3 linked regions of the Homo sapiens genome follow. The protein of the gene in region 1 interacts with the protein of each later gene in a biochemical or structural test. Each region holds a gene or a part of one and is shown on either strand. Other genes may lie near its edges.

What was found.
Region 2: the proteins of BACH1 (region 1) and MAF interact in a test that uses a peptide from one of them, tested with the Homo sapiens proteins (one large-scale study listed by IntAct).
Region 3: the proteins of BACH1 (region 1) and CREB1 interact in a test that uses a peptide from one of them, tested with the Homo sapiens proteins (one large-scale study listed by IntAct).

What each region holds. Positions count from the first base shown.
Region 1 is NC_000021.9:29,335,789-29,341,345, forward strand, and holds part of BACH1 (transcription regulator protein BACH1), read left to right. Parts: intron 1-5,557. UniProt on the Homo sapiens protein: Transcriptional regulator that acts as a repressor or activator, depending on the context. Binds to NF-E2 DNA binding sites. Plays important roles in coordinating transcription activation and repression by MAFK.
Region 2 is NC_000016.10:79,593,338-79,595,597, reverse strand, and holds the end of MAF (transcription factor Maf), read left to right. Parts: exon of another isoform or gene 1-1,044; coding exon 1,045-1,138; 3' UTR 1,139-1,760; downstream 1,761-2,260.
Region 3 is NC_000002.12:207,602,902-207,606,488, reverse strand, and holds the end of CREB1 (cyclic AMP-responsive element-binding protein 1), read right to left. Parts: 3' UTR 501-3,587; downstream 1-500.

The DNA.
Region 1 (5,557 bases):
TGGTTGATCTTGGTCTCTCACCCCTTGGTGTCACTGTTGTTCCTGTCCTGCTGTCTTGCTGGCTGTCATTCCTCACTCTGGCTCTCTTCCTCTCCTTTTATTTTCTGAATTGTTTGAAAGCTACCATATTATGACACTTCATCCTTAAATGTTTAAACATGCATCTTCTAAAAAGAGGCATTCTTAGATATGACTAATACCTTTATTATGCCTGAGAATTTCAACACATCCTAAATATTATATCTAGTTTTTATTCAAATTACTCTGATTTTCCCATCTTTCATAGATGCTTTTTTTTCAAACGAGGATACAGTCATCGTATAATGCATTTGATTAAACCTGTTTAGTCTCTTAATCTAGAACAAGTACTCTCATTGTTTTAATGACAATAACTTTTTGAAGTATCCAGGCTGGATTTCTCATAAATGTCTTACTTTAAGTTATTTGTCTGATTGCTTCCCCATGGCTTTAAGTCATTTCTCCATCCCTTTACTTCCCGTAAACTGGAAATGTTTGAGTTGAGGAGACTGAGTTTAAACATTCACTGGTGTTGTCCTTTATATTGTGTCGCCTAGGGAGGCAGGAGGTCCAGTGTCAGTATTGTCGTACCTGGGTAGCTGGGAAGTGCCAGATTGCTCCATTTTCAAAGTAATATTTTTTCAACCTGTGTTGCTTAGTTATCTATGATGTGTTACTTGGGCACTTTATAATTATCCCGTTCCCCAATACTCCTGCATCCTTTAGAATATGTTGATGACCTTCACTGTGATTACCATGATTACAAAATCATGATTTTTCTAAATCTTTCATTCTATTTACATTATTTTAGTTGGTATTCCTGATTAAAAAGGATTGTTCTTCCTTTCTTTCTCTTTTATTTTTTTATTTTTTTTTGAAACAGAGTCTCACTCTGTTGCCTAGGCTGGAGTGTGGAGTGCAGTGGCGTGATCTCAGCTCACTGCAACCTCTACCTCCCAGGTTCATGTGATTCTCCTGCCTCAGCCTCCCGAATAGCTAGGACTACAGGTGCCCACCACCACACCTAGCTAATTTTTGTATTTTTAGAAGTGATGGGTTTTCATCGTGTTGGCCAGCCTGGTCTCGAACACCTGACTTCAAGTGATCTGCTTTCCTCAGCCTCCCAAAGTGCTGGGATTACAGACATGAGCCACCATGCCTGGCCTTTTCTTGTTTTCTCTTTTCCCTCCCTCCCACTCTTTGGAATCACAGTGGACTCATGGATTAATTTTTTCTGATTCAATTTGTTAGGATAAGTAATAGTCATTATTCTTTTTGATGTTGACATTTTTCAAATTTGGCCTGGGAGAGCCCGTTCAAGCCAGCTCCTGTCCTGTTGACATAACCATCTAGCACTTGCCATGGTCTCACTTTTTAACCTCTATTGTTTCAAGATTTGGAATCACCCATTTCTTTAAAACTCCTGGTTTCTTCTAGCAGTTATATTGGACTTTGGAAAGCCTACCTGCTGCTGGAGTATTATTCCTTCTGGGCCTTTTTCAGTGGACAGAGCTAGGAAATATATGCATCTGTGTATAAAATAAAGTTCATTATATCATGAATTCATATATATCAGGCTTCAGTAAATGAAAGTAAAAAGTACATTAGAAATCCTGAGTTTATGTAGTATTTCCAGTCCAAATTTAGCAGTATAGAGCTTTTGTCTTCACTTCTGTGTTTATGTTTAATCTCTCATCATTTACAGGAAAAATTTTGGCTCCAATTACATTAGTGTATTGTTTCCTTTATAATATACAGTAAGTTCTCACTTAACATGAAATGATGGATAATGAAACCAGTTTTTTTCCTCATCAACTTTATAATGAAAGGATGTTGTAAAAATGAGAACACTTGGACACAGGGTGGGGAACATCACACACCGGGGCCTGTCGTCGGGTGGGGGAGTGGGGAGGGATAGCATTAGGAGATATACCTAATGTGCCGGGTGCGGTGGCTCAGGAGTTCGAGGCTAGCCTGGCCAACATGGTGGTGCAAACCTGTAATCCCAGCTACTCGGGAGGCTGAGGCAGGAGAATCGCTTGAACCTGGGAGGTGGAGGTTGCGGTGAGCTGAGATCATGCCATTGCACTCCAGCCTGGGCTACAAGAGCGAAACTCCGTCTTAAAACAAAAACAAAAACAAAAACAAAAACAAAAAAAACGAGTTAATGGGTGCAGCACACTAACATGGCACATGTATACATATGTAACAAACCTGCACGTTGTGCACATGTACCCTAGAACTTAAAGTATAATATAAATAAACAATAAAATAAAAAAGAAAGGATGTGGAACAAAATGTTTATTGAGGACCTGGTGTGCGTTGTTTCTCTTAAAGTCAGTTTCCAAAAACCTGTCGATGATTTTAAGTGAGGGCACACTGTATAAAAAGTAAGAAAATTAGACAATCAGTATTACTATTAACAGTAAACAAATTGAGCAGAATTTGAGATTTATTTGCTTTTTTATGCTTAAATATTTCCCAGTGTGAAGCTTTAAAGTTATTTGAAATATTTGTGTTACCAATTTGGCATACAATTAATTTTTTTTTCTATTTATATTACTGGGATTTACTCTACATTTTTTGAGACAGGGTTTCACTCTGTCACCCAGGCTAGAGTGCAGTGGCACAGTCATGACTCACTGCAGCCTTGACTTCTTGGGATCAAGCAAATCCTCTCATATCAGCCTTCTGAGTAGCCAGGACTACAGGTGCGCACCACCATGCCCGGGTAATTTTTTTGTGAAGGTGAGGTTTCGCTGTGTTGCCCAGGCTCCTCTCAAAACTCCTGGGCTCAATCGATCCTCCTGCCTTGGCCTCCCAAAGTGCTGAGATTTTAGGCATGAGCCACCATGCCTGGCCTACATTTTTAATTTGTTTTATTTTGAATGTAAAACGTTTATATGGTTCAAACATTAAAACTATATTTTAAAAAATATATACTCCAAATCTTGATCTCATCTTCTCCTTATACCCTATTCATAGCTACTTCCTATAGGTAACCATTTTCATTAGTTTCTGGATTTTTTTTTCCCTGTGTTTCTTTTCTAAAAATGTGTTAACATTTTATGTCTACTCTTATTATCCATCCTGCTGCATGGAAGTATTTTATATACATTTTTCTGTACTTTTTAAACTTAAGAATTGATTTATAGGAAATATTTTTTCTTAGTTCAGAGAGGTTGTCATTCGTTTTCCAGCTCCATAGTACTCAGTAGTGACTGTAATACAGTTCAAACCAGTCTTCTGTGGGTGGACAGTTGGGATCCTGCAGTGAATAACTGTATACTGTTTCATGTTTAAGGAGCTGTGTCTCTAGGACACATTCCTAGAAGTGGGATTGTTGGATCAAGGGTAAATACATACATAATTTTATTAGATATTAACAGATTCCCCTCCTTAGGAATTGTCATATTTGGCCTTCCAGCAGCAGTATATGTGTGTGTGTCTGTCCACACCCTCAGTCAAGATTTGTTGTCAGCTTTTGGGTTTTTTCCAGTCTGATAGTGAGATACCATGATATCTCGTGGTAGCTTTTATTTTTATCTTATGAGTGAAAATGAGCATTTTTGCTTATATTTCTCAGTGCCATTTGCAGATTTCTCTGAACTGCCGTTCAGAGGTTTTACTTACTAAGGAACTATTAGTGACCATTTTCTAACAGTGAGTACTCTTTACCCTATCATAAAATTGTCACTTGTACTTTTGGTGCCAAATTCTTCTATATCTTTATTGGGTGAGTTATATTTATGATCTTTAAAAAAATTATATTTGAATAAATATTGTGCACTAGCTATTCAAAATAAGGATTTAGATGCAAAGGTTTTTTTTTTTTTTTTTTTTTGAGACAGAGTCTTGCTCTGTCACCCAGGCTGGAGTGCAGCGGCACAATCTCGGCTCACCGCAACCTCCGTCTCCCAGGCTCAAGTGATTCCCCTGCCTCAGCCTGCCCTTTTAGCTAGGTTTACAGGTGTGTGCCACCATGCCCAGCTAATTTTTTTGTATTTTTATTAGAGACAGGGTTTCACCATGTTGGCTAAGCTGGTCTCGAACTCCTGACCTCACATGACCCGCCCACCTCAGCCTCCCAAAGTGCTGGGATTACAGGCGTGAGCCACTGTGCCCAGCCTGTAAAGATTTTTTGTTGGTATAAAATCCAGAATGGTACCAGAATGCCAATTTTATTCCTTTTTAAGAAATAGCTCTAATTAAAGGTGCAGCACTTCAAACGTGATTTATACAGTTGTTTTTATAGGAAAATGGAAATATATTGTAGGGATAGGTAGCAGGACACTAATAGTGAGTCCCACTCATGACTGTAAGTAGTGACTTTGGGAGGTATCTTAAATACTGATGTCATTAAGTAATTAACTTGAATTACTTGTATTTTACTTTTAGTTATTAAGCTGACTGCTATTATAGTAAATATGTGTCTTAAACTTAGAGTGAAATGGAAACTGCTTAGAAGCTTAGCTGTGTAGGAGTTAAAGTGCAGGGGAACAGATGGGAACATTTAATTTATAGAAATAATTCTGGTGGAGTTCTAGGGCTGTGCCTATTTGTTTTAGTTGTTGTGAAGAAGCAAGCCATCTTGTATACTTAAAGAATGATGTCATCCCTAATTTAGTGGGGTGGGAGGAGTGAGAGTATTTAAAGATCATGTGGATATTAAGATACAGAAGTCATAAAATATTTGTAATCTTCATAGTATCTGTAGGTTAAGTAGTGGTTCTAATTTCTGGGAGGAAGCTCAAGTACTCCTTATTTTGTTGAACCATATTTAATTTAAAAGACCAACCAGCAGTTGAAAATTTTCTATTGCTGTTTAGAATAGATTCATCCCAACTTTGGTAGAGGAGTCCATGGCTGAATATTGCCATGAGTGAAGAAAGATTCTTTCTCACTTTCTTCTGGAAGCTTTGTTTTCATCCTCCTTTGGATTGGCTTCTGAGAGACCATAAAAAGAAATGGGTGTTGATTGCATTTAATGGTTCCTACTGTGAACAAGCAGTAGGTACCGTTCTTGCCCTTTCAGTATCTGCAGACTCATTTTATCAGAAGAGTGCAACTGATAAACTTTGCATAAGAGAAAATGTACTGGCCAAACATTGATTTTGCTTACATACACATACTTAACACGCACATTCTTGACCTACATCTATTTAAAAAAAAAAAAAAAAAGAACTTGTATATAAAAATCTGAACAGATTGGAGAATACTTTGCCATATAAAAATTTAGTATTTTGTATTTATTGTATATTTTCTCAAAATATTACAAGGCTTTAAAATATTTTAGAAATAACAATAATTGGATTCATACATAATTTTATAGTAATACTTTTGTATAAAACCATAACAATACTTTTGTATAAAGCAAAATTCGTTTTACCCTTTTAGTGACTTTTATGTCATAAAAGACTAAAGGATGGCACTTATAGATTAGCACTATGAACTAACTTGTCTCAAGGTTAACTGGCAGCCTCAACTCTCCAGAACCTGTCAATGAACAGAAAGCAAACAGAACAACACTGACTTGTTG
Region 2 (2,260 bases), on another chromosome or scaffold:
CGCTGACCTATTTTTAAATGACACAAATTCATGAAACTAATGTTACAAATTCATGCAGTTTGCACTCTTAGTCATCTTCCCCTAGCACACCAATAGAATGTTAGACAAAGCCAGCACTGTTTTGAAAATACAGCCAAACACGATGACTTTTGTTTTGTTTTCTGCCGTTCTTAAAAGAAAAAAAGATAATATTGCAACTCTGACTGAAAGACTTATTTTTAAGAAAACAGGTTGTGTTTGGTGCTGCTAAGTTCTGGCCAGTTTATCATCTGGCCTTCCTGCCTATTTTTTACAAAACACGAAGACAGTGTGTAACCTCGACATTTTGACCTTCCTTTATGTGCTAGTTTAGACAGGCTCCTGAATCCACACTTAATTTTGCTTAACAAAAGTCTTAATAGTAAACCTCCCCTCATGAGCTTGAAGTCAAGTGTTCTTGACTTCAGATATTTCTTTCCTTTTTTTTTTTTTTTCCTCATCACAACTAAGAGATACACAAACTCTGAAGAAGCAGAAATGGAGAGAATGCTTTTAACAAAAAAGCATCTGATGAAAGATTTTAGGCAAACATTCTCAAAATAAGAGTGATATTCTGGATGTAGTTATTGCAGTTATCTCATGACAAATGAGGCCTGGATTGGAAGGAAAATATAGTTGTGTAGAATTAAGCATTTTGATAGGAATCTACAAGGTAGTTGAATATAATAAGCAGGTTTGGGCCCCCAAACTTTAGAAAATCAAATGCAAAGGTGCTGGCAAAAATGAGGTTTGAGTGGCTGGCTGTAAGAGAAGGTTAACTCCTAGTAAAAGGCATTTTTAGAAATAACAATTACTGAAAACTTTGAAGTATAGTGGGAGTAGCAAACAAATACATGTTTTTTTTTTCTTACAAAGAACTCCTAAATCCTGAGTAAGTGCCATTCATTACAATAAGTCTCTAAATTTAAAAAAAAAAAAATCATATGAGGAAATCTAGCTTTCCCCTTTACGCTGCGTTTGATCTTTGTCTAAATAGTGTTAAAATTCCTTTCATTCCAATTACAGAACTGAGCCCACTCGCAAGTTGGAGCCATCAGTGGGATACGCCACATTTTGGAAGCCCCAGCATCGTGTACTTACCAGTGTGTTCACAAAATGAAATTTGTGTGAGAGCTGTACATTAAAAAAAATCATCATTATTATTATTATTTGCAGTCATGGAGAACCACCTACCCCTGACTTCTGTTTAGTCTCCTTTTTAAATAAAAATTACTGTGTTAGAGAAGAAGGCTATTAAATGTAGTAGTTAACTATGCCTCTTGTCTGGGGGTTTCATAGAGACCGGTAGGAAAGCGCACTCCTGCTTTTCGATTTATGGTGTGTGCAAGTAAACAGGTGCATTGCTTTCAACCTGCCATACTAGTTTTAAAAATTCACTGAAATTACAAAGATACATATATATGCATATATATAATGGAAAGTTTCCCGGAATGCAACAATTAGCATTTTAAAATCATATATAGGCATGCACATTCTAAATAGTACTTTTTCATGCTTCATTGTTTCTCTGGCAGATAATTTTACTAAGAAGAAAAATAGATATTCGACTCCCCTTCCCTAAACAAATCCACGGGCAGAGGCTCCAGCGGAGCCGAGCCCCCTGGTTTTCTCGTAGGCCCTAGACGGTGTTGCATTTATCAGTGATGTCAAACGTGCTCATTTGTCAGACATAGCTGTAAATGAAAACAATGTGTGGCAAAATACAAAGTTAGTTAAATACACACCCTCTGTGTGATTTTTTGCTCCCTTTTCTTTTTTGCTCCTACTCAAAAAAAAAAAAATCACCTCCTTTACATTTCCCTGGCTTCTTGCATGTTTCCCTTTTCAAAAACCATGTAATAATTTTTTACAATGTATCTGACACATTAATATATTGACATCAAATAGGCAGACATTCTACTTTTGCCTGGCAAATAAATCTGCTACGGAGACATCATTTCCTCACTGTCTCAAAGCCATAACTACCTGGGAGTCTTTCAACACAGACCCCTCCGATGGGAAATGCTGTTTATTACTGAATGCAGGATGCTCACGCTCTGATCTTTTCTCCCTTGTGCCTTTACCCCAGTCATTTTTACTTAGCAACACCAATTCTAGATACTTCTGTTCTGAAGTAGAACCACCCCCTTGCCACACTGCCAGTTTTCCTGCTAAAAGCAGTGGACAGAAGACAGATCATGGTCACCCTCACAAACATGGCACACAGCTGTCTCGGTAGCTG
Region 3 (3,587 bases), on another chromosome or scaffold:
TTTTTTGAGACGGGAGCCTTGCTCTGTCGCCCAGGCTGGAGTGCAATGGCGCAATCTCGGCTCACTGCAACCTCCGCCTCCTGGGTTCAAGTGATTCTCCTGCCTCAGCCTCCCGAGTAGCTGGGATTACAGGCGCCTGCCACCATGCCTGGCTAATTTTTGTATTTTTTAGTAGAGATGAGGTTTCACCATGTTGGTCAGGCTGGTCTCGAACTCCTGACCTCAGGTGATCTGCCCTCCTCTGCCTCGGCCTCCCAAAGTGATGGGATTACAGGCGTGAGCCACCCGCACCCCGGCCCAACTTGAAGATTTAATTGTTAGCTTTCTGCTCTAAAATCATGTTACACCTTTCCTTCTACAACCAGAGGGGTTAAAAATTTAGTAACACTAGAAAAGATGGCATATTGAAAACTTGTTTCTTTGCTAAGAACAGTTATTTCTGAGGATATTAGAAAGAAAACAGTATTAACAGAGATGAGAAAAGGAAAGCCTTATGAAAGTCTGTGCCACTTCTAATTTTAATTCCAGAAAAAAATGCCTAGACTGTAAAGTTTGACATAAAAATAGTAATCAACATAAGTTAATAAAAATTGCTTAGCAGATACCTAATAATCATTAGGAAACAATATCCAAATATGAAGAAAACCATAATTCAGAAATAACTTTTACTTCTCAGTATCCTGGAGATACAACTTGTGTAGACCTAGTTACCAACCTCTGTATATCTGTAACAGTAAAAAATTTCAAACAGCCAAATGTCCCCAGAAGAGGACTGGTTAAACTGTATCTGTACAATGGCAGCAGTTTATAAACCACTGTTTGTACCTACCTTTTGTGTAAAAAAAGGGAGAGGGAGGAGGAGAGAACATACATTATATTTGTGTATATATGCACAGACTGTCACAAAAAACATAACACAAAAAACTTCTTACAGTTTGCCCTTTTCCATGTTTCTTTTTTTTAGAAGTGTACATATTACATAAAGTAAGTTTGAAAACAATGAGGACATTATAAAGCAAAAACTTATAGGCGAAAATATTATAAGGGCCTAGTACCCAGAATATATAAGGAACTCAGAACCCAACAACAAAATTTCAATGAACAAAGGACCTCAACAGACATTTCTTCAAAGAAGATACGCAGATGGCCAAAGACAACAAAAGATGCTCCACATCATTAGTAATCAGGGAAATGCAAATCAAAACCACAATGAGAGACCACACCCATGAGGATGGCTATAATTTTTAAAATGGCAAAATAAGTGTTGGTGAAGGTGTGGAGAAATTGGAACCCTCATACATCAATGGTGGAAGGTAAAACGGTACAGCTGCTGAGGGAAAGTTTGACAGTTCCTCAAAAAGTTAAATGTGCGATTTCAACATGACCCAGCAACTCCACTCCCAGGCATATACCCCAAATAATTGAAAACACGGACTCAAATACTTGTACACGAACATTCATAACAGCACTATGAACATTAGCCAAACAGTAGAAACAACTCAACTGGATGAATCGATAAACTTGTGGTATATATCTACAATGGCATACTTACTATAAAAAGTATACTTAGCTATAAAAAGGAATGAAGTAGTGATAACATGTTACAATGGATCAACCTCAACAACACATTAAAGCTAGACGAAAGAAGTAATACACAGTGTATGAGTCTCACATGAAATACCCGGATGTAAATCCAAAGAAACAGGAAGCAGATTGGTGGTTGCCAGGGACAAGGGCGGTGGGAGGAGAAAATGGAGAGTAACGGGACTTTACTTTTGGAGTGATGAGAATGTTTTGGAGCTAGATAGAAGTGGTGGTTGTACACCATTGTGGATGTACTACCACTTAATTGTTCACTTAAAAAGTTAATTTATGTGAATTGCATCTTAATTAAAAACAAGGATAACATTCCAACTCCTGGACATTATCCTTCCTTTCCATTTGATGTCAGGCCCGTGTTAGAATTCTCATCCGGTTTGGTCACTGCACTTAAGAAAGATGTGGAGAAATTAGGACGCACAGTTAAGAAGAAGGATAACACTGATTAAGGTAGTGCTTTTCTAGGTTTCCCCTAAACAATTTAACAGATGGATAGTGGCACCACTTACGAGATGGAAAAACCAGCGGAAGGAAGATTTGGGGGAGAAGTTAAGTTTGTCTTGGGCCTGTGTTTTGCAACCTGAGTGTAAAAGACATATGTTAAGTCTTCAGTGGCGAAACACTAAAACTAGAAATGGATCAGAATTTTATCTTTGGATGTGACTTCTCAAGGATGGTCTTGTCACTTCAGTGCCTGGTCAAATGACAAGATGGGCAATCTTTTCCTGAAGGTCCAAGCACCTGAACGTGGCAGGGTGACCCGATTCCGATTTGCTTAGAACAATCCTAGTTCATGCCTATTGTCCCTCATGTAATTAATATCACTCTCAAAATGTCTCATTTTGTGCAATAAATTCTGTAATCGTTGTTGCAGAAAATAAATGAAATTCATTAAGCCTTCCAATACAATGGCAGGTATAGCAGGCTTGAACACATCTTGGCAGTGAAGAAACATACAAATAATGCAGCTGCTTATTTTCAGATGTCTCGTCTCAGAACTTATTTCAGAAGTTAATAGTATAGGAGATAACTTTTTTATTCTTACAGCTTAAGCAAAGATTAACCATATCCCCTCCCCTTTCCTTCCAATTTATATGATCACAGAGTTTTAGAATTGCAAGGGGACCTGAGAAGGTATATAGTCTTATTGTCCTTTCAGTGAACACGTGTTTTATGACATCAGACACAGCTGGTCGTATGTCTCCATTAGTCATCTTGACAGTAACATCTCCAAATCCACAAATAGGCACTGTTCAATCTTATTGAAAAACAGGTTTTGTCCTGAAAATTAGGGATCCAGTAACTGAAGACATGTTGTTGTCTGAATTAGTTTTGCTGCCTTCCAACACAAGCTTGTAATATATTGTAACTTTAAGTCCAATAAAACATGGCTTCACACTACTAGCAAAAAAAACCCAACAAAATATAGAGATCCCATCCCCAAAAAAGAGACTTACAGAGTTTTTAAAAGCATGTTTATGTGACTGCACATAAATGTTTGTGTAAAAAGAGCATTATGACAGTTGATACCACAAAGATTACAGTAAGAAAAAGCACTTTATGACAATATTTCACAAATTCACAAGGATCACTTTAATATACAAAGCAACTGCTACTATTCTGAACACAAAGCAGCTATTATGTACATAGTGTTAATAAAATGCATTGTAACTCAGTACATTTTTTTCTTTACACATAAAGCACAAAAAGATTTAGATAAAAAAATTAAAACAGGGATGTTTCTAGAATGTAGGGAATTTTATTAGAAATGTATTTCCCTCATTATAGTTATTTATTTAGTATTCAACTCCAATAGAAACATCAGAGTTAAAAATCAATACCCTGTTTTGTGCTGACAGTTGTGGGGGAAGTCTTCTTTACCCCAACCCTCAAAAACCAAAAAGCCAAACACCTTTCTAGGAACTTCCCTGATTATTTTGCTTCTAAAAAGTTTCAAGTGATACATCTGGGTTAGAAATAATTCCTTT